Linked DNA regions of Homo sapiens: region 2 is linked to region 1. The links come from fine-mapping of genetic effects on gene expression. A gene starts in region 1. The other region holds a variant in brackets. All regions are shown on one strand. Distances are between the middles of the regions. Region 1 holds the start of FAM221B (family with sequence similarity 221 member B). Region 2 has its middle 14 kb from the start of NPR2.

Region 1 (10,307 bases):
TACAGATAAGGAAACTGAGGCTCAAACCTAGACCAAACTGAGGATGCAAACCTAGCTCTCTCTAAATCCAAAACTAAGACCCTTTGACTTCACAGCTGCCTCCTCACTTAGGAGCCATTTTCTCCACTTACCAAACCTAAAAAAAACAGATGTGTGGAAGGTGTGTGTGTGTGTGTGTGTGTGTGTGTGTGTGTGTGTGTATTTTGGCATGGCGTCTTAAGCCACTGAGCAGGCTGAAACTCCACCTGTGGGGCTTGGGAGTCAGCATGGAACTGTGTAACTTCCTTGTTGATTTTCTTCCCCTTTCTGTTCCCCTGTGGTTAGGAGCAGTAAAAACCCTCAGCAGCCTCACAAGCGCTGCCTGTATACTGGCTCAGGGCAGGAGAGGGGAGGGGAAAGTGTGGTACGGCTGCCAGGGGCCTGCTTGGGTGGCAAAAGCAAGGACAGGAGCTGGCAGGCCACCATGAGAGTCCCCAGGAAAGGAGAGTCATCAGGCCTCCCAGGTCAGAATGCACAGCTAGTAGGTGGGGGCCGGGGGAATGTTCCCCCAAAGGGAAGCCCAGTGAGGCAGTGAGTTAGTGACCCAGTGGATTTCAAGCCCCTTGGGAATATTCAGAGCAGGCCGAGTTGGGAGGTGGGGAGGAAGTGGTCATCCCTCATTAAAATGCCAAGATACCTGATCATGATTGTCAGGAGCAGAGCCAAGGTGAGCAGAAGTTGTGTCAGCAGCTAGCCAGGCAAGGGACTAGAATAGCTGTCACAGTGGAGGCAACCAGTAGCAGACAGGGGAAGAGGGTCCCAAATGGCAGGCAAGGTCTCTCAAAGTAAACCTCTAGGGAATCTGACTGCTCTGGAGACTTCGGACCAGCCAGAAAAGAAGCCCAAGATGACACCTCCAGGACAGGTGAGAAGGTGGGGAACTCAGCAGCTTCAGGACAGACCCGGGGCTGGAATAAGGACTACTCTGGAGGGGCATTTTCAGCCAAGCAGGAAATACCCTCAGGGCTAACCTAGTCCAATCATCTCCCTCTCTGGAGATGGGAGAGATTAACTCCAAAAATGAGGTGTTTTTGAAATAACAAAGAAAGGGAAGGGGAGGCTGCTGAAGGACGAACACTGAACCAGAGCAACCCCAGGAGTCACCCCAGAGAGCTGCCCTACATAGGTGGGGGCCATTGGAGGCCACGGTTACACTCAAGGACTAGTCTGTCCAGTTCAGACCACATGATCAGTCTCAACTGTCAGGAAGGAAAACCTGTCACCTTGCAAGCTGAGCACTGCCTAGGAACCCAGAGAGGCTACCAGTGCAGCATTCAGAGAGTGATAGAGATGCAGCCGAGAGGGATAAAGGGAAATGGGACCGACTGATGGAAGAGACGGGTTTCCTAGGAACCCTAGCTGTGCTAAGTAGGAGGCAGAAGGCTAAGAGGTGAACAGCCTGGATACTATTGTTAGAAGAAATCAGAACTCTAGCGCACCTTCTGCTGGGGTTAGGGAAGGGCTGATCCTCCTCAAAGCTGGTACCAGGGATGGGTCATCTGATCAACCATTGCTACCGTTAGGAGAAATGTTGGTCAGTCCCTCGGTGCAGACCCTCAGATGAGGGCTAGTGGTGAAAAGCAGTTTAATGACCTTTGGGAAACATGGACAGACAAGCACAAAGATCCTTGTAATTCAAAGGATCACAGTATGGCCTGGGGAACTGGGGAACTAGCTAAGCCATCCCCACAGTGGCCAGGGGCTACAGAGGTCACAGAATAGGCCAGTGAGATAAAGGAGTGAGCAGCAGCTGGGAATGCTAGGAGGAACTTGGAAGAAGTTCTGAGGGCAGATGCTTGAGAAAGGGTCCACAGCCCCATTCACTCCAAACTTTGGTTTGCGGTTTGAACAGGGCCTACCAGAGCTGTGTCCAGAAGAAGCATGAGTAAGGCCCTTACCGAGTTCAGATGAACTTATTCCAGGTTCCCCAATATTTCTATGATGAAGCTAGGGTAATTCCGACCATCACCCACCCCATACACACATACACATACACACACACACACACACACACACACACACACCCCTACACCTACACACATAGGCTGAGGCTGGCCCTGCTAGTAATAGCACTAGGTAGAATAAAAGCCCATTTTTTTTTGAATAGCAAGGCACGTGTGAGTCCTCAACTAAGCCCAAGGAAAAGATCCAAGGATCAGGAGTGGGACCACTAGACCCAAGAGATAACTTCCATTCCTGAAATGAAACCGAAGCAACCAATAAGCACTGTGCAGCCCTGTGCCATGATGGTCCTATGACACTGCCAGCCTCTCCTCAGACAAAACCCATCACCACCATTAGGTCACAGAGCACCCTGTACTTTGGTCCAAAATTGCCAAGGCATTCATTATTAACAGCACTAAAGGCAGCCCTGCCTCCATTTGGGTGTATTGGTACTCTTTTCCAACTTCATTACAATTCTCCCCAAAGCACCTGAACCTGCTTCTGGGCAACAGTGTTTTTATCCACAACTTTCAGCTGTATATGCTCTGTGGCTGTCGGTCACCCTGCTCCCCTCACCAGCCCAATGCTTGCTCAATGGGCACATGAAGAAGCCATGATGGCAGAGGATGGAAGCTAGGAACTTGGCCCAACAGCATAAACTTCCCCTTACCAAAACTGAAAACCTGACTGGCTACTGCCTCTGCCCAGTGTCCAATTTGCCAGCAGCAGTAATCAACACAGAGTGCCTCCACAGCTCCTTCCTTCAAAGGCACTGGCTGGGGATGGATGGATAACTTATATTCGTTATGGGAGGCATGCAACACTGCCCTCACCCTTGGAACTGCTGAGAAAGGGTCTCCAGCCCCATTCACAGCTTCAGTGATCTGTCCATATGAGGAGGAGGCAGAGCTGAAGAGGAATGTACATGGGCCACAACATGTCCCCTCCCCTTCATACCATAACACAGGCGCTCAGAAGATACACTGGCTCACATGCACCCCACACACATGCACGTGTCTACACTTAACAACACACAAGCATGTACACATGCTGCCAGCCTCCCCACAATCCCTCAGTTACACACATACACATAAGTGACCAGACATCTCTGCAGGGGTTGTGACCTTTCACGTGCATTCGTCTCCTTAAGTTTGTACACTGAACCAGGCCCCCAGAGCTCACTGATACCCATTCTCCACCCCCCAGCTGTTCTGTTGGCTGTTATTTCCAAAGACTCCATCAGGCACATCTCCATCCTATCTAGAGTGACACCCACCAGAGGTGGCTACAGACTTGGGCCATGAAGACTACAGTCACTCCATGATGGAGCCATCTTCATGGCACATCCCCTAGACCAGGACACCCCCTCCTCCTCCCACATTCCAACCATTAAAAAATTGGACCTCTCTCTCTTCTGTCCAAGTCACTTCCCCACCGGAGGGTGGCCCTTGGCTGACGCCTGGCAAATAAGGAACAGTTTGTGGATAAAGCACCCTTGTGGGCAGACCGGGGAGAAGGGAGGTTATGCTTTGAGCCTTTCCCCACTTGGGTCTATTTTTCTATTAAGTATACATTGCAGTGGATAAAAAAAAACACACTAGTATGAAATAGGAATTAGGAAACCTTTTTTCTAGCCCCAGCACACTGCCATTCACAAGCTCTCTGACTTTGGACAAATTGCTCCCTCCCTGAGCCTCAGTTTCCCCATCTGTAAAATAGCCTCCGAGTTTCAGCCCTGCTCTAAAAGTATCAGGAATTATTCCTAGGCAAATCAATCTTCTTTGGAACAAGAATCATTACAAGAAGAAAACTCATTATAATGGCAACTAATCCATATTCATCTATTTGCTACATATTATCTTTAAAACTCTTCTTCATGCCGTTTGAATGCATGCCCAATATCTCAAAGGTTTGGGCTATATATTCCCACACTACACTAGGGGCTTCTGGTGTGGGACTGTCTCTCCCCCATCAAACTTTGTGAGCAGGAGCAAAGCCCACAACATTTCCCTGGAAAAGCAAGAGTCAAAGTGGGGTCAGGACAGACACCAGAAAAAATCTTGGAGTCTCTGTGCTAGAAACTGTAAGCCACCTGCTGAGCCTCAAACCCAATTAATTACCACTCTTTTGACCCTGCCAATCCCTGTTGTGTAAGACCTCTCTACTCTCTATTTCTCCCACTTGCTCCCCAATGATCTAGTTCCCCAGGTCCCACCTCTCCTGAATCTCTCCAGCCCACCCCTCCCTGCCGGAACCCCATTCCTGCCTCAATCTTCCCTGCTTCTGCACTCACCAGCCCCTGGGCCAAGGACAGAGAACAGCAACAGCAGCAATAGGGCTGGCGGCAGCTGAAACCCAGACTTGAGTCTAGGCTGGGAGAGGGGCAGAGTATGAGAGATAGGGGGGACTAGAGGGAGAGACTTGGGTAAACACAGAGATGAGGGCAAAGGCTGAGATAATGGGTTGGGCTGGGCTGGACACTGGGGCTTGAACAAGGGCAGGGAGTGGGATGGAAGGAAGGGCTGTGATGGGGACTGCAGCAAGGGACGGGGTTGAGCCAGGGCCTTAAGCAAACACTGGGAATGGGGCTGGGACAGGGCCTGGGCTGGGATTTGTGACAGGGGGTGGAACGAGGGCCGAGGCCGGGATGGGGGCCAGGCCAGGGGCAGAGACTGGAAGGGGGTCCTGGATGGGGACCCAGGCAGGGGCTGGGGCCGATGTGGGAAGCGGGGCGAGGGCGGGGCTGGGGGCCAAGGCGGGGATTGGGATAGGACGAGGGGCCGGGACAAGGGCTGGGCCATGGCCCGGGGCGGGGGCGGGGCCGGACAGGCCAGCGCGGGGCGCTCGCAGAGCTGGCCCGCGGCTCCGCTCCCCACCCCCGGGGGGTGGCCTCCGGTGTCCTCGCGGGCCCGGGGCGGGGGCCGGGGACCTGGGTAGGAGTTCAGGCCTGGGCGACTCCGGGCTGCGCTGAACCGGCGATAACCAGGCCCCGCGGCGGCGGCCTCGACTTGACGTCGGCGTGACGCCCCGCCCCCCGGCCGGCTCGATTGGTCCCTGTCAGTAAAGCCCGCCCCCGCCCTACTCTATTGGTCCCCAACTTAGTCCTGCTGGGCTTCGAGGACACACAGACTCCGCCCCCGCCTCAGCTACCCGAGACCCTGCCTTTCTCACCCCAAGCACAGAGCCCGAGGTCCCCTCAGATCCTCACAGCCCCCAACGACCGCCCCACAGATGTCTCAAAGGAACCCTATCCTCACAATCCCAGACTCCCCCGGACGTACGCACAGATCTCCGCAGATCCTACCCAAACACTCGCTCACAGAGATCCCGCAACACACACCCCACTTTTCAGAAGTAAACCCTCTGGGCTCGCCCCCTCGAGGCCCAATGCAAGCCCCTCAGGAGACCTTACCCACCGGGGAGGTGACCAGACCGCCGTTGCCACGGAGACTACTAGGCGTTCCGGTTGCCCTGGTGACCGGCGCCTACTCTCCTGGCCCGGGTTCCGGAGGCTTCAGTCAAGACCCTCCCTCATTGGCCCTAGACCCCTTGTCCCTACCCACTTCCCCAGGTCATGCCAGAGCTCCTTTGCGAAGTTCTGCAGATATCCAAGTCCCCTTCCCAGATAGCAGACTTTCAGGCAAGGCATTTCAACACTCAGCACCTGCAGCTGAGGCACATCCACAACCAAGAGCCTTTCCTCCCTGAGGATCAACACCTCCCCCTGCCATCCTAAGTCAAGGTCTTGACCTAAGGACTTGTAACAACCAAGCCAAAGCCCAGAGGGTAGGTGGTTTCTCCAACGGCCCTTGCCCTCTTCCCTCAAAGACATCTGTCTTTCTCCCACCCCTCAGTCCCTTCACATTGTTGTAGTAGTAGTAGTAGTAGTAGTAGTAGTAGTAGTAGTAGTAGTAGTTGTTGTTGTTGTTGTTGTTGTTGTTGTTGTTGTTGTTGTTTGAGACAGAGTCTCGCTCTGTCCCCCAGGCTGGAGTGCAGTGGTGCGATCTGGGCTCACTGCAACCTCCGCCTCCCAGGTTCAAGTGATTTGCTTGCTTCAGCCTCCCCAGTAGCTGGGACTACAGGCGCCTGCCACCATGCCCAGCTAATTTTTGTATTTTTAGTAGAGACTGGGTTTCACCATGTTGGCCAGGCTGGTCTCGAACTCCTGACCTCAAGTGATCCACCCGCCTTGGCCTCCCAAATTCTGGGATTACTGGCATGAGCCACCATGCCTGGCCCACATTCTGTACTTTTCATCCTTACTCTCCTCCTCCACCCAATTTCCTCCTCCCCTTCTCTTTCCCCTTCCTCACCTCCCATCTTCTGGTTCTCCACTCTTAGGCCCCTTTTCTCTCTAGCTGACTCTGGTCATCTTCCTCCCTGTAATCCTACCTCTGCCCCTAATTCCCTTCCCAAACATCCCCTTCAAAAAGGCTCTGATGCATTTAAGGAGTGATATATCTAGCGTCTCTGGAACATGGGGGTAAAGTAGGGAGCACGGAAAGTTAAGGCAGGAATCCTCAGGCTGTGTTGAAAATGATGACAGGCCTTGAATGCCAGGGCCAAGAAATTTGGACTTAATCCTTTAGACTGAGTCATGGAATGTTTTTAAGCCACAAAGTGCCAGTTGTTGGGCTTGCACTTTAGAAAGATCCTGATTGGGTCAGGAAGGAGGACTACATCCTTGCAGGATAAATTAGGTATATCCCCCTCCCCACCGTATCCTAGACTCACCCCAGAACAACATCAATTTATTTGTATTGCCATTGTTGGTTAATCGGTCTCTCTCCTAGACTCAACTCAATCTAGAGCTTAGCACAGCGGGTCAGTAAAAGCATCAGATTAGGCTCATTGTAAAAGTATAAGTTACATAAATCCATGAAAGAATGGGTGAATGGATTAAAATGCTGTGGATGGAAGTAGAGGGGCAAAGTTATTACACAAAGGCTGAAGATGATGAGAACTTGAATAAAATTGGAAGGGAGAGGAGAGAATGCATTTGGGGAATATTTAGAAGATAGGAAATAGAGTTATTGGTGCCTATTTGAAGATGGAGTCTAAGGGAAAAGGAAAAGACTAGGATAATTCCCAAAGTTCAGTTTTGCTGTCTGTGGAAACACTCAGTTAGAAATGACCAGCAGGGGCCAAGCACGGTGGCTCACTCCTGTAATCTCAGCACTTTGGGAGGCCAAGCAGGGCAGATCACCTGAGGTCAGGAGTTCAAGACCAGCCTGACCAACATGGTGAAACCCCGTCTCTACTAAAAATATAAAACTTAGCCGGGCATGGTGGCACACGCCTGTAATTCCAGCTACTTGGGAGGCTGAGGCAGGAGAATCACTTGAACCCGGGAGGCGGAGGTTGCAGTGAACCGAGATTGCGCCACTGCACTCCAGTCTGGGCAACAGAGCGAGACTCCATCACAAAAAGAGAAGAGAAGAGAAGGCCAGCAGGCAGGTGGGTATGAGTGTGAAGTACAGAGGTTGAAAAAGGTCTGAGCTAGAAATGTGAATTTAGGAGTCATTGGTACACAACTGGAAGTAGTTAAAGCTTTGAACATGAATGACATCATTAAGGGAGGAGGATGTGTGTGGTGCCTAGACAAAACCAGGCTGCGTGCAGTGTCTTGCCTTATGTGACAGCATTCCCCTGCACTCTCAGGAGCCAACCCCAACTTTGGCTTGGTATTGCCAGTCTCTAGAACTCCATGGTCTGACCTCCAGGGTTTTAAGATATGCCAAGGACCCTGCTCTTGGACTGCCCAAGTGGTGTTGTTCAGACTCCCTCCTGGGACATGGTTCTCTGCTACCATCTACTGATGGGATTCGAACTACTTCAGTCTTTCAATCTTTAAGTTCCAGCTCCCTAACAAGCCACAGCAGCATGCCATATGAGGTCTGGACACATGGGTGAACCTTTTGGCATCACACTCTAGGACCCAGAGTTCATGTTGTTTCCCTCTTATATCTCAGCTGCACTGATATCCTTATCCAAATTCCATAATGCACTGCGAACCCTGGGCTCTGCCCTGACTTGCCGGCCCTCTATTTCCAACCTAATGAAGCCTGTACCCTGTTCTACCACTAGATGGAAGCACATGAGATCATAGAAGAGCCTCATATCACCATGGATGCAGAGAAGCACCCCCCTTCAAAGGACCCCTCTGCTGAGGACTTACAGGAGAACCATATCTCTGAAAGCTTCTTGAAGCCTTCCACCTCTGAGACCCCGTTAGAGCCCCATACCTCTGAATCCCCTTTGGTGCCATCCCCTTCCCAGATCCCCTTAGAGGCCCATTCCCCTGAAACCCATCAGGAGCCTTCCATCTCTGAGACTCCTTCAGAGACCCCTACCTATGAGGCTTCATTGGATAGTCCCATCTCAGTGGTGCCAGAGAAACACCTTACTCTTCCTCCCCAATCACGAGACTATGTCTGTCTGTCTTCTTCTGATACTCTGAAGGAAGACCTCTCCTCTGAGTCTTCTTCCAATGAGGTCCCATGGACAAGGAGGTCTACCCATCTCTCTGAATCTGAGAGCCTTCCAGAACACTGTCTTTCAGGCCCTTCATCCCAGGTCCAAGTGGACACAACCGAAAAGCAGGAGGAAGAAGCAGGAGAGGTTGAAAAGGGAGTAGATGCCAGTGACAGCACTGCTCACACAGCCCAACCTGGACACCAACTAGGCAAGAAGAAGAAGAAGAAAGGAGTTAGCTGTAATTGTACCTGTCCTCTCCCCTGTCCTGTTCTCACTACTATTCACTGTCCTTGACTTGCCCCAGGAGGAGGAGACTGGGTTACTCTTGGACATGGCCCCTTCTCTTAGTTTTAGGGCCTTCTCACTTCCCCCTGGTTACTCATCCTCTCCCATCCTAGGTAACACAGCCCGCCCAGTGTTCCCTGCTAGGCAGACAGAGCTGGTGGAAGTGGCTAAGGCAATGCATAGAGAGGAGTTTGGTGCTCAAGTGAACAATCTTTTCCAGTGGGAGAAGGATGCAGCCCTGAATGCCATCCAGACAGGTGAGCCCATGTGGCCTTTCAGAGGCCTGTGACAGGCCCATGGGCATCCTCTAATCCAAAAGATCTGGGAACCTGAACATTCAGCAGATAGCTTCCCCTTTTGGAAATGGCTATACCACCTGCCTGGAAAAGGAGCAGGCAAGTGGGCCAAGGAATACAAGGGTGGATGCAGACAAAAAGTGGGGAGATTCATATAAAGCCCAGGTAGAGACAGGTAGCTGAACTAAAATTATTAAACACAGAAGGGTCGGCTGGGCGCGGTGGCTCACGCCTGTAATCCCAGCACTTTGGGAGGCCGAGATGGGCGGATCACGAGGTCAGGAGATCGAGACTGTCCTGGGTAACACGATGAAACCCCGTCTCTACTGAAAATACAAAAAATTAGCCGGGCGTGGTGGCAGGTGCCTGTAGTCCCAGCTACTCGGGAGGCTGAGGCAGGAGAATGGCGTGAACCCGGGAGGTGGAGCTTGCAGTGAGCCGAGATTGCGCCACTGCACTCCAGCCTGGGCAACAGAGCGAGACTCCGTCTCAAAAAAAAAAAAAAACCAAAAAACAAAAAACAAAAAAAAACAGAAGGGTCATGGCCCACCCCAGATATAGGGCCCAGAGAGCCTACAGACCCTAAAGCAGAGATGGCCCAGGACCCTGGACAGTCCCCAGGAGACTTGCTGTTCTGACATGACAAAGACCTTAGTCCCTTTGGTGGAACTCCATTAAAAGGCTGTCACCCCTGCATGCCAGGCCCATGCTGGGTACCCAAAAGCTTTGAGTTCTGTTACCAAAGGGGAGACCTGTGTCCTCTGGCCCTGCTGTTTCCAAGCCTCAGCCTGTGATTAGTACTCTTGACAGTCCTGTTAGTGGCATGCTGCGTACAGATGAACTTGCAAAAACATGCCATCCTATGCATGAGCATGCCTACCTGTGTTATGGAAATTCATGTCTATAGGGATTACCTTCAGTAAGAGGGCCACCCTGACCTGCTATAAGGATTCTGGTCTTTCTAGACTGAATTCAATAGATGTTATGACATTTATTTTGGTCCTTCATACTTCCTTTCCCTTTATGATGGGAATAGAGCTACGATGACAGGCCTAAAACATAAAGACAAGCAGGTAATTCTAAATGCTTATCCCTCCTCCATGAAATTTACTTTCCCCTTTCCCATGCAGGGACCCTCCACCTCCCCACCCTTGCCCTCCCGCCCCACCACCAACTTTGTTTGCTTATGTTAACATATTCGGTTACTCTTATTTTCTTGCAAATTCTGGCTGGCAAGGTGGCTCACATCTGTAATCCCAAAACTTT
Region 2 (10,307 bases), 51 kb after region 1:
TGTAATCCCAGCTACTTGGGAGGCTGAGACACGAGAATCGCTTGAACCGGGGAGGGGGAGGTTGCAGTGAGCCGAGATCACACCATTGCACTCCAGCCTGGGCAACAAGAGCAAAACTCAGTCTCAAAAAAAAAAAAAAATTAAGTAACTTATTTCATAGTTGGTGTACTTTATTCAATAAAATAGTTAAAAGTCTGTTTTATCTGGCCTGGCGTGGTGGCTCACACCTGTAATTCCAGCACTTTGGGAGGCCAAGGAGGGTGGATCACCTGAGGTCAGGAGTTTGAGACCAGCCTGACCAACATGGAGAAACCCCGTCTCTACTAAAAATGCAAAAATTAGCCAGGCGCGATGGCACGCGCCTGTGATCCCAGCTACTTGGGAGACTGAGCAGGAGAATCATTTGATTCCAGGAGGCGGAGATTGCAGTGAGCCGAGGTCGTGCCACTGCACTCCAGCCTGGGCAACAGAGCGAGACTCCGTCTCAAAAAACAAAAACAAAAACAAAAAACCTTGTAATAATAAAGTTAGATTTCAATTTAAAATTGTGTGAGTGTTTTATTTTAAGGAGCTCATGAACAAAAATATTTGAGCTCTGCAGCTCAAAATAACACTTTGAAAATCAGTGACTAAACAATGACTCTTGATGCTACCAAACCTAAATCTTCCTTCTAATAATTATTTTCTAACGGCACCTTTACTAACTTAAAATAAAATGCATAGATAATACAACCTATCTCTACACATAATTTCAAAACATCAATAAAATTTCCTACCTGTAATATAGAAGAGAAATAATAGCCGGGCATAGTGGCAGGCGCCTGTAATCTCAGCTACTCTGGAGGCTGAGGCACAAGAATCCCTGGAACCCGGGAGGGGGAGGTTGCAGTGAGCCGAGATCACACCACTGCACTCCAGCCTGGGCAACAGAGTGAGACTCTATCTCAAAAAAAAAAAAAAAAAAAAACGAGAGAAATAAAAGACAATAACTTATTTTAAAAACAGGTATTTCAATATGTAAATGGTTGGATATAACTGTGATAGAACACCAAAGGAGGCACTCAGCTAATTGTAATTAGATGCTTCCATCTAATTACAGGGAATGAATAAATTTTGATTTAAGAGATCTGAAGCCACTCCATAAAGAAAGATACTGGATTAAACACCAGTGTTAGGATAAGCAATAACAGAACAGATGTATTTATATATATATTTATATATAACACCCTACACAACTGTTTGGTGGAATATTTGAAGACTGTGCAGAACTCAGGATATCTAAATCATGCCGAATTCAGGACATTTATTTGACACCTAAAAGGTATTGCCAGTGTCAAGGTACAAGGATTAACAACCAAAACAAGGTGAAATTCCTTCTCTCATGGAATACATTCTTAATTATGTGGAACTGTCCTCACATTGCAGAGTCTAACATCTGCGGCCTCCAACTACTACAATGCCAGTAGCACCCACTCTCATCACTATAGCAACCAAGAAAATGCCCCTTCCCCTCCACCCCCTCCTGCCTGCCCCCCCACCCCCTCCCCCCACCCCCACTATCTCCTGCGCACCCACCACGGACCAAAATGCCCCTCCAGGAAAAGTACTACTGCTGTTCAGAGCCACTAGCCTGCAGGATGGAGAACAAGAATCTCAGTCCACCAGGTGGTCCTGGCTCCATCTTCCTCTCCAGCCTCCTCTGCAGCCACATATGCCTTCTAAACATATAGAGCTATCTATAGTCCTCTAAGTGGGTCATGTTATTCTATGCCCATGGGTTTTCTGTCAGCCTGAAATGTTTTCTCTTCCCTTGAGTTCTAATTAGTCTTTTTTGAGGCTTACTCAGGCCACTTTTCAATTTAATTTAATACATTTGTTTTAAAGTAGGTACTTTCTGCCCCATTAGATTGTGTATTCCATGAGAAGGAATTTTATCGTCCTTAATCTTTGTACCTTACATTGGCAGTATATTTTAGAATTCAAATAAATGTTTTCTCAATGGATATATGAGTATGGATGAAGGGATTCACTTTATTTTTATTTATTTGGTCATATTTTGAGACAGAGTCTCACTCTGTTACCCAGGCTGGAGTGCAGTGGCGCCATCTTGGCTCACTGCAACCTCCATCCCCCGAGACTCAATCAATCCTCCCACTTCAGCCTCCCAAATAGCTGGGACCACAGATGCACACCACCACGCCTGGTTGTTTTTTGTTTGTTTGTTTGTTTGTTTTGTATTTTTGGTAGAGATGGAGTTTCACCATGTTGCCCAGGCTGATCTCAAACTGCTGAGCTCAAGTGATCCACCCTCCTCATCCTCCCAAAGTGCTGGGATCACAGGTGTGAGCCACCGTGCCCAGCCAGGGATTCACTTTAAAAGAAAAAGAAATTCCTCTGAGACTGCAGGGAAAGGTGGAACAATGGATTCAGGGATAGATTTCGTGACGGATAAATTTAACTTATCTGTTGAGCATTGAGCTTGGTCAGGTATAAACATAACCTGCCACCCATCAGTCTTCATCTGTGCCATGACAAATGTCTCCTTTGTACCTCTTCACAACATCATGGTCAGAGTCCATAACACTCTGCTCCCTTTTGGTTATTTAAAGACTCAGTCCGATATGGCTTAAAACTCCAGTCTCAGGTCCAATGCAGAACTCATCTTAAGCCATGGCTTAAGGAACCTGCGGTGGAGAGAAGAATATGATCCCTTCTATTGATTCTGCTTCTCCTCTTCTAGTTCTCTGGAAGGTTCTCTAGAAGGGTTTTAGCTCCTTGGTGGTTGAGAACTAGGAGGAGGGCAGGGAGGAAAAGAACAACTCTCTTTTTATTTAACAAGGTAGTTATCACAAACCACTGTTTGCTGACAGACCATGCCAACCTGTTGTTTGGCAGATGTCAAAATGCTATCTTTCTTGCACATGGTGGCTCATGCCTGTAAGCCCAAGGCATTGGAAGGCTGAGGCAGGAGGATCACTTGAGCCCAGGAGTTTGAGACCAGCCTGGGCAACGTAGAGAGACCCTGTCTCTAAGAAAATTTTTTTTTAATTAGCCGAGTGTGGTGGCACATAACCTGCAGTCCCAGATACTCAGAAGGCTGAGGCAGGAGGATCACTTGTGCCCAAGAGATTCAGGCTGCAATAAGCCATGATCACAACACTATACCCCAGCCTAGGCAACAGACCCCATCTTAAAAAAAAAGATGCTGGCTCTCTTATGAGACAGTTATGTGAGTTCTTTAGAAGGTCCTACTGGGCTTCTCCACTGAGTTGTGCCCTAATGCAGAGAATCCTGATCCAAGCCATCTCTTTAACCCTCCTAACTTCTGTTCAGTGGCAGCCTTTTGGATGGGTTACCAGCATGATGGCTCAAGCCCGGCGATCTTCCTCAGTGTCCCTTTGATCACAGAAACTCACATACCCTTGCTAAGCCAAACAGAATGAATGCAGACTATTCCACTACTATCCCCTTACTCTGCCCTTCCTCCTTTCTCTAATTGCCTTTCCTCTTCTCAGACAGGTGCGGAGCTGAACAAATCCACTGTCTAAACAGATAGTTTAACCAAGGAATGAGAAATCAATCTCTCTTTCATGTAGATCTCTTTCATACTCCCTTGCTTACTTTAAGGGGGGAAAGGAGGGAAAAGTACTCCCTGCTAGGCTCATGACAGCCTCCCTTCAGTCATCTTTTATCTTATATAGCCTGGGAATGGAGGTGGGGTGGTAAGGTATGGGTTGGCTGGAAGTTGCAGGGCCACTTCTGCTACCTCTTTGTAAGCCCTGGAGAGGAGCTCTGATCCAATTATTAGCAACTCTCTCTAGAACGTGCAGTATTTAGTCCTCTTTGTCCCAGCTTTGGACCCTAGTCACCAATTCCAGGGCAATAGAAAAAAACCTTACTCAACATCCTCTATAATATATTGAAATGAAGGGAAGGTTATATGAAATAAGGAGCTCAACTGCATTCCTCAATGGGGAAGCAAAGTCATCTTTTGAGTGACAGAAGGAACCAGGAGTTTGAAAGTTCAGGCAGAATAAAGAAGACAGAGATAGACTGGAGATAGAACATCAGATGAAAGCCATGTATACTCTCTTTTCCCCATTAAAATATAAAAAGCACATATACATATTATTCCACAACATTTTACATATCATTTCAGGTGCACGTGGATCTAGGAGCTAAAGGATCCCAGATTAACAAGCCTTGGGCTTAAGAGAAAGCAAACAGGAAGGCGAATGTGCATTATTTGTGCATTCGAGAGGAGGGAGTGGGTATGTAGGCAGGCAAAGCCAATGCACAAAAGGAAGGCTGGACATTTAGGGACTTGCATCCACCCAGAAGCCATCCATGTCAGACACCAGTTTGACATGTCATATTATATTCCAAAGTATTCTGACTGCTTGAACACTTTTGTATATTCAGCTTATTTTTCAGTATAATGTTGTGATACATCCTTCTACAGAGTTAATATGATTAATAATTGAGGGACTTTAGAGAAGGGGCCAGAAATTTAATTATGCTTTAAAACGTAGCTTTTGGACTGGAAACTGTTAACAGCGAATACCTCCCTGAAGGGGAACAAGGTATCTAAAGGGCAAGATGAAAGAGACAGTTTTTTCATTATCTATCATTTTGTATACCTTTTTTTGACACAGAATTTCGCTCTTGTTGCCCAGGCTGTAGAACAATGGCATGATCTTGGCTCACTGCAACCTCTGTCTCCCGGGTTCAAGTGATTCTCCTGCCTCAGCCTCCCGAGTAGCTGGGATTACAGGCATGCGCCACCACGCCCGGCCAATTTTTTTGTATTTTTAGTAGAGACGGGGTTTCTCCATGTTGATCAGGCTGGTCTCAAACTCCCGACCTCAGGTGATCTGCCCACCTCGGCTTCCCAAAGCGCTGGGATTACAGGCATGAGCCACCGCGCCTGGCCCATTTTGTATAGCTTTAATTTTGTAACAGGTGTGCAAGTATGACCTATTCAAAATTTTTAATTAAAAATGAATCTTAATCATAAACAAGAAAGCATAAAAATATGTCATTGATATGGGGTGCTTGATATCTTGAATGTTTTAAAGGATGGCAATGGGACCTCAAAGGGAAAGATGGGATTTCTTTTAATAGATAAACACACATGGTGAATCCCTCATAGCTGTAGCAAGGAGATTAAAAACATCAAAGGGCAGAACGGTAACATCAGAGCTAAGAAGGCTTTTCTGAAAACCAGTCATTTGGAACCAAAAGATAAAGTATTACAAAAAGTATAATCCAAGATCAGTAGGTCTGAAGAAGAAGAGTTAGAACTAGAACATCTTACAAGAAACAAGTACCAGGCTGGGCGCGTTGGCTCACACCTGTAATCCTAGCACTTTGGGAGGCCAAGATGGAAGGATCATTTGAGGCCAAAGTTTGAAACCAGCCTGGTCAACATAGCAAGACCCTATCTCTCTCTCTATATATATAAAAATAAATAAATGAAAGAAACAAGTACAAAAAAAAAAAAAACCACAAAACATGATTTAGGCCTGGCACAGTGGCTCACGCCTGTAATCCCAGCACTTTGGGAGGCTGAGGAGGGTGGATCACGAGGTCAGGAGATCGAGACCATCCTGGCTAACATAGTGAAACCCCATCTCTACTAAAAATACAAAAAATTAGCCAGGCATGGTGGTGGGCACCTGTAGTCCCAGCTACTGGGGAGGCTGAGGCAGGAGAAAGGTGTGAACCTGGGAGGCGGAGCTTGCAGTGAGCCAAGATCATGCCACCGCACTCCAGCCTGGGTGACAGAGCAAGACTCTGTCTCAAAAAAAAAAAAAAAAAAAAGAAAAACACCTGATTTAGATAACTTCATGTATAATGTCATAAAAACAAAGCTAAGATTGGTTGGGGTATATCTGGCCCAAGAATAAATTCAATTATTTTGATTTTCCACAAAGCAAATTTTTTTTTTTTTTTTGAGACAGAGTCTCACTCTGTCACCCAGGCTGGAGTGCAGTAGTGCCAGCTCGGCTCACTGGACGCTCCACCTCCCAGGTTCAAGCGATTCTCCTGCCTCAGCCTCCTGAGTAGCTGGGACTACAGTCGCCCGCCACCACGTCCGGCTAATTTTTTGTATTTTTAGTGGAGACGAGGTTTCACCGTGTTAGCCAGGATGGTCTCGATCTCCTGACCTCATGATCTGCTCACCTTGGCCTCCCAAAGTGCTGGGATTACAGGCGTGAACCACCGCGCCTGGCCCACAAAGCAAATCTTGATCAAACACTAGACAAGATGAACTGTAGGGCTGACTTAGACTCTTCCTTGAGGGCCAAGGATGACACTTTGAAAATAAAGAAATAAAATATTTATTTAGATGAGAATAGGGGGCCAGATGCGGTTGCTCATGCCTGTAATCCCAACAATTTGGGAGGCCGAGGGAGGTAGATCACCTGAGGTTAGGAGTTCAAGACCAGCCTAGCCAACATAATGAAACCCTGTCTCTACTGAAAATACAAAAATTAGCCAGGCATGGTGCAGACGCCCGTAATT[C/T]CAGCTACTCGGGAGGCTGAGGGCAGGAGAATTGATTGAACCCAGGAGGTGAAGGTTGCAGTGAACCGAGATCATACCACTGCGCCCCAGCCTGGATGACACAGCAAGACTCCATCTAAAAAAAAAAAAGAAGAAGAAGGAGAAGGAGAATAGGCCAAAAACAACAGGCATGATCTATATGACTGCAAAGGTTCCACATGAGTAGTCGTCATTGTCCTAAACACCTGCTGGGTCACCAAGAGAGAAAAACAGAGGAGTAATTTGATGCCAGCCTCTCCCACCAGTGACAGCTAAGAACACCTCCCACTACTGAGGGTAGCTAAACTGTCTAACAAAAAGGTCAAAGAAGTTTGCCTATCATCTGTGATTCAGAGGAAAACAAGAAAAGAGCATTACTGTTTTTTTCTTTCAAATCTAGGCCTTAAGCTAACCTGTTAGAGGTCAAATAAACAGGCTCCAAAATCCCCAGATTAAGACCTATTTGCAGTAACAATAAATGTAAAAGCACCTTGTATATTGTAAAGCATTATATAAATGTCCATTATTATGGTAATTATTAGGGGTCCGTCATATCCAAAATTGAACTACATCCCACCATCAGCAGTTTGGGACCATATTCTGGAAGAGTAAAGCAAAAATTTTTTTAAAAGAGTTTGCTTGTTTTTACACTGTGTAAAGGTTTTCAAATTTTTCATCTCTTCATTGAAAAGTCTAATAAGAAGAGCTGATCAGTAGTATATGACCAAAAAAGAGAAACTGTTCAACTTAGTTCAATATCCTTAAGAAGTGTACTAACTAGGAAGAGACAAACGCAAGCTTATGTGGAAGCGTGTGTAGTAAATGGTGGCGCTCCTTCCCATTCCCTCCACAGATGGCTTCCTGCTGAGCTCAGTCAGGGAGGCACTGGCAGAAAACTGAACGAGAGAAGCCAGACTATCTCTTCCCCTTCTCTCCCAGCCTTGGCCAGCATCTGGACAGGCACTCTTTGGCCCCAGCTTCCCTAGAACAGGCCCCCAAAGTTCCGGCTTCTAAGTTACCCTGCCCCTTGCACTTCCCCTCCTTCCCACAGCCTAGGGAGAATAGAAGGTTCGGTTGCTAATCTTCCCCTGCATTGCCTCACCTTCCCTTGAAAGGCTTCTCAGCTCTTCCACCATATTCACAGCCAGCTAATTCTCTGGATTAAATGCCCTCTGGTTTAAATGCTTAGAGTGAGTTCTGTTTTCCTGTTTGGACCCTAAATCTGGCAGCTAAACAAAAAAAAATGAATTTACTGCACTGAGGGCAAAGACCCTGGCTCCAAAACTGCCAAGTTCAAGGTTCACTGCTATCAGTGTGGGTCCATCCAGATGGAGTAATATAGAGGAGTGAAGAGACAGAACTGATTTCCCTTTTCTCCCAAAGGAACACAGGAGAGAAAATGAATTTGGAGAAAACAGAGAGAAAAGGGTATTATAAATTTCCTGCTTCCCAATCCTCGAGACAATATGGGGAGGAGGCTGCTGAAAAAGACAAGGATGTGACTGAAGCCCCCCCCACCAAAATTTGGGATGAGTCAAAGAGGGGAATTGACCTGTATAAAAACCAAAAACACTGAAAAGATTATAGTACTCCCCTCCTCCAAAAAAGAAATAAAAATAAAATCAATAAATTCAAATTTCCCCATAGTAACTATTTCCATGTTTTTTTTTGTTTTGTTTTTGAGACAGAGTCTTGCTCTGTCGCCCAGGATGGAATGCAGCGGCACAATCTCGGCTCACTGCAAGCTCCGCCTCCCGGGTTCACGCCACTCTCCTGCCTCAGCCTCCCCAGTAGCTGGGACTACAGGCGCCCGCCAACACGCCCGGCTATTTTGTATTTTTAGTAGAGACGGGGTTTCACCGTGTTAGCCAGGATGGTCTCTATCTCCTGACCTCGTGATCCACCCGCCTCAGCCTCCCAAAGTGCTGGGATTACAGGCGTGAGCCACCGCGCCCGGCCAAGTACTTCCATGTTTTTAAAAACACAGCAACATCCTTTCCTCCAAATCTATTTAGTACCACTGCTTTGCTGGGACCCTAAAGGCACACACTTAGTCTGCCTACCGGGTCATCCAGCAAAAGGCCTGTGCAGCCTGCCCTGACCAGAGCTGAGCACAGTCAGTCTCTCAGGGAGGGAGGCGTTTGCTGCCATGGGGGAGCAAGGTGCTGAGGCTGAGTCTCCTGAGGACCCAGCAGTGGTAGAACTGGGGTATGACCCCTTCAGAGTCCCATGTACATTCAACGAAAACCGGAATAACCCAGATTAACCATTCACTTCATTCAACCAACTTATAATAATTTTTGACTGTTTTAATGAAATTTATCATCAGAGAATAAAGTTTGTGCACCAATACACATTTTTTAAAGTGGCTATAAAACTGAAATAACAATGGATTGTTTTTTCACATATAAAAAGATCTTCAGAAATAATAATACGGGCCAGGTGTGGTGGCTCACACCTGCAACCCCAACACTGGGAGTCCAAGGCAGGAGGATTGCTTGAGCTCAGGAGTTCAAGACCAGCCTGGGCAACATAGCAAGACCCCATCTCTTTTATTTATTTTAAAAATTAAATAAATAAATAATTTTTAAAAAGAAACCTGGGGCTGGGCTCGGTGGCTCACGCCTGTAATCCCAGCATTTTGGGAGGCCAAGGTGGGTGGATTATCTGAGGTCAGGAGTTCGAGACCAGCCTGGCCAACATGATGAAACCCCATCTCTACTAAAAACACAAAAATTAGCCAGGCCTAGTGGCATGCGCCTGTAGTCACAGCTACTTGGGAGGCTGTGGCAGGAGAATCGCTTGAATCCAGGAGGCAGAGGTTGCAGTGAGCCAAGATAGCACCACTGCATTCCAGCCTGGGTGACAAAGCAGCCTCCGTCTCAAAAAAAAAAAGAAAAAGGAAACCTGGAACAGTATAAATCAAAATGTTAAGAGTGACTGTCTCTTTAGGAATAGTATGTGTTAGAATTTATACATATATATTTCTTTTCTTTTCTTTTCTTTCTTTTTACTTAAGACAGGTTCTTACTCTGTCATCCAGGCTGACAGAGTAGTGCGATCTCAGCTCACTGCAGGCTCAACCTCCTGGGCTCAAGCAATCCTCCTGCCTCAGCCTCCTGAGTAGCTGGGATTATAGGCATTCACCACCACACCTGGCTATTTGTTTTTTATTTTTCGTAGAGACAAGGTCTCACTATATTGCCCAGGCTGGTCTTGAACTCCTGGGCTCAAGTGATCCTCCCGACTCAGCCTCCCAAAGTGCTGGGGTAACAGGTGTGAGCCACCATGCCTGGCTGTACTTTTCAATAATTATGTATTACTTTTGCAATAAGAAGCTATATATGGGTTTTTTTAAGGTACCACAAGGATAAAAGAATACCAAAGGACTTTTTGTAAATGTCACTGAAATAGGTCTGTAGTCTCCACTTAACAAATACACCAGTAAAGTTTGAGAGTTTTATGTATAAATTACCAGCATATTTGTTTATGAAGACATATTACTTTAAAACACAACTTTATAGCTCATTTATACAACCCCACCACAGTTAGTATGCAGCTCAAAAAATATTTGTTGAATAGTCTAGTATAAAACTTTTTTTTTTTTTTTTTTTGAGACAGAGTCTCGCTCTGTTGCCCAGGCTGGAGTGCCGTGGTCCGATCTCGGCTCACTGCAAGCTCCGCCTCCCAGGTTCACGCCATTCTCCTGCCTCAGCCTCCTGAGTAGCTGGAACTACAGGCGCCCGCCACCACGCCCGGCT

Evidence for each region. PIP is the estimated chance that this variant, and not a neighbour inherited with it, causes the effect.
Region 2: its variant is fine-mapped to the expression of FAM221B in whole blood (TOPMed, PIP above 0.99).

The regions. Positions count from the first base shown.
Region 1 is chr9:35,823,925-35,834,231 of GRCh38, reverse strand. FAM221B (family with sequence similarity 221 member B) reads left to right here and starts at 5,500. Exons shown (of 7, transcript NM_001012446.4): 1 at 5,500-5,769; 2 at 8,071-8,668; 3 at 8,859-9,002. The coding sequence starts at 8,071. TMEM8B (transmembrane protein 8B) reads right to left here and starts at 5,004. Exons shown (of 13, transcript NM_001042590.4): 1 at 4,277-5,004. The coding sequence starts at 4,784. RefSeq lists enhancers at 3,912-4,412, 7,776-8,135 and a silencer at 4,698-5,147.
Region 2 is chr9:35,772,644-35,782,950 of GRCh38, reverse strand. It overlaps a transcript of RGP1 not described here. Among named protein-coding and RNA genes, the nearest start is that of NPR2, 14 kb to the left of the region's middle. The variant C/T (reference allele first, on the strand shown) is at 6,529.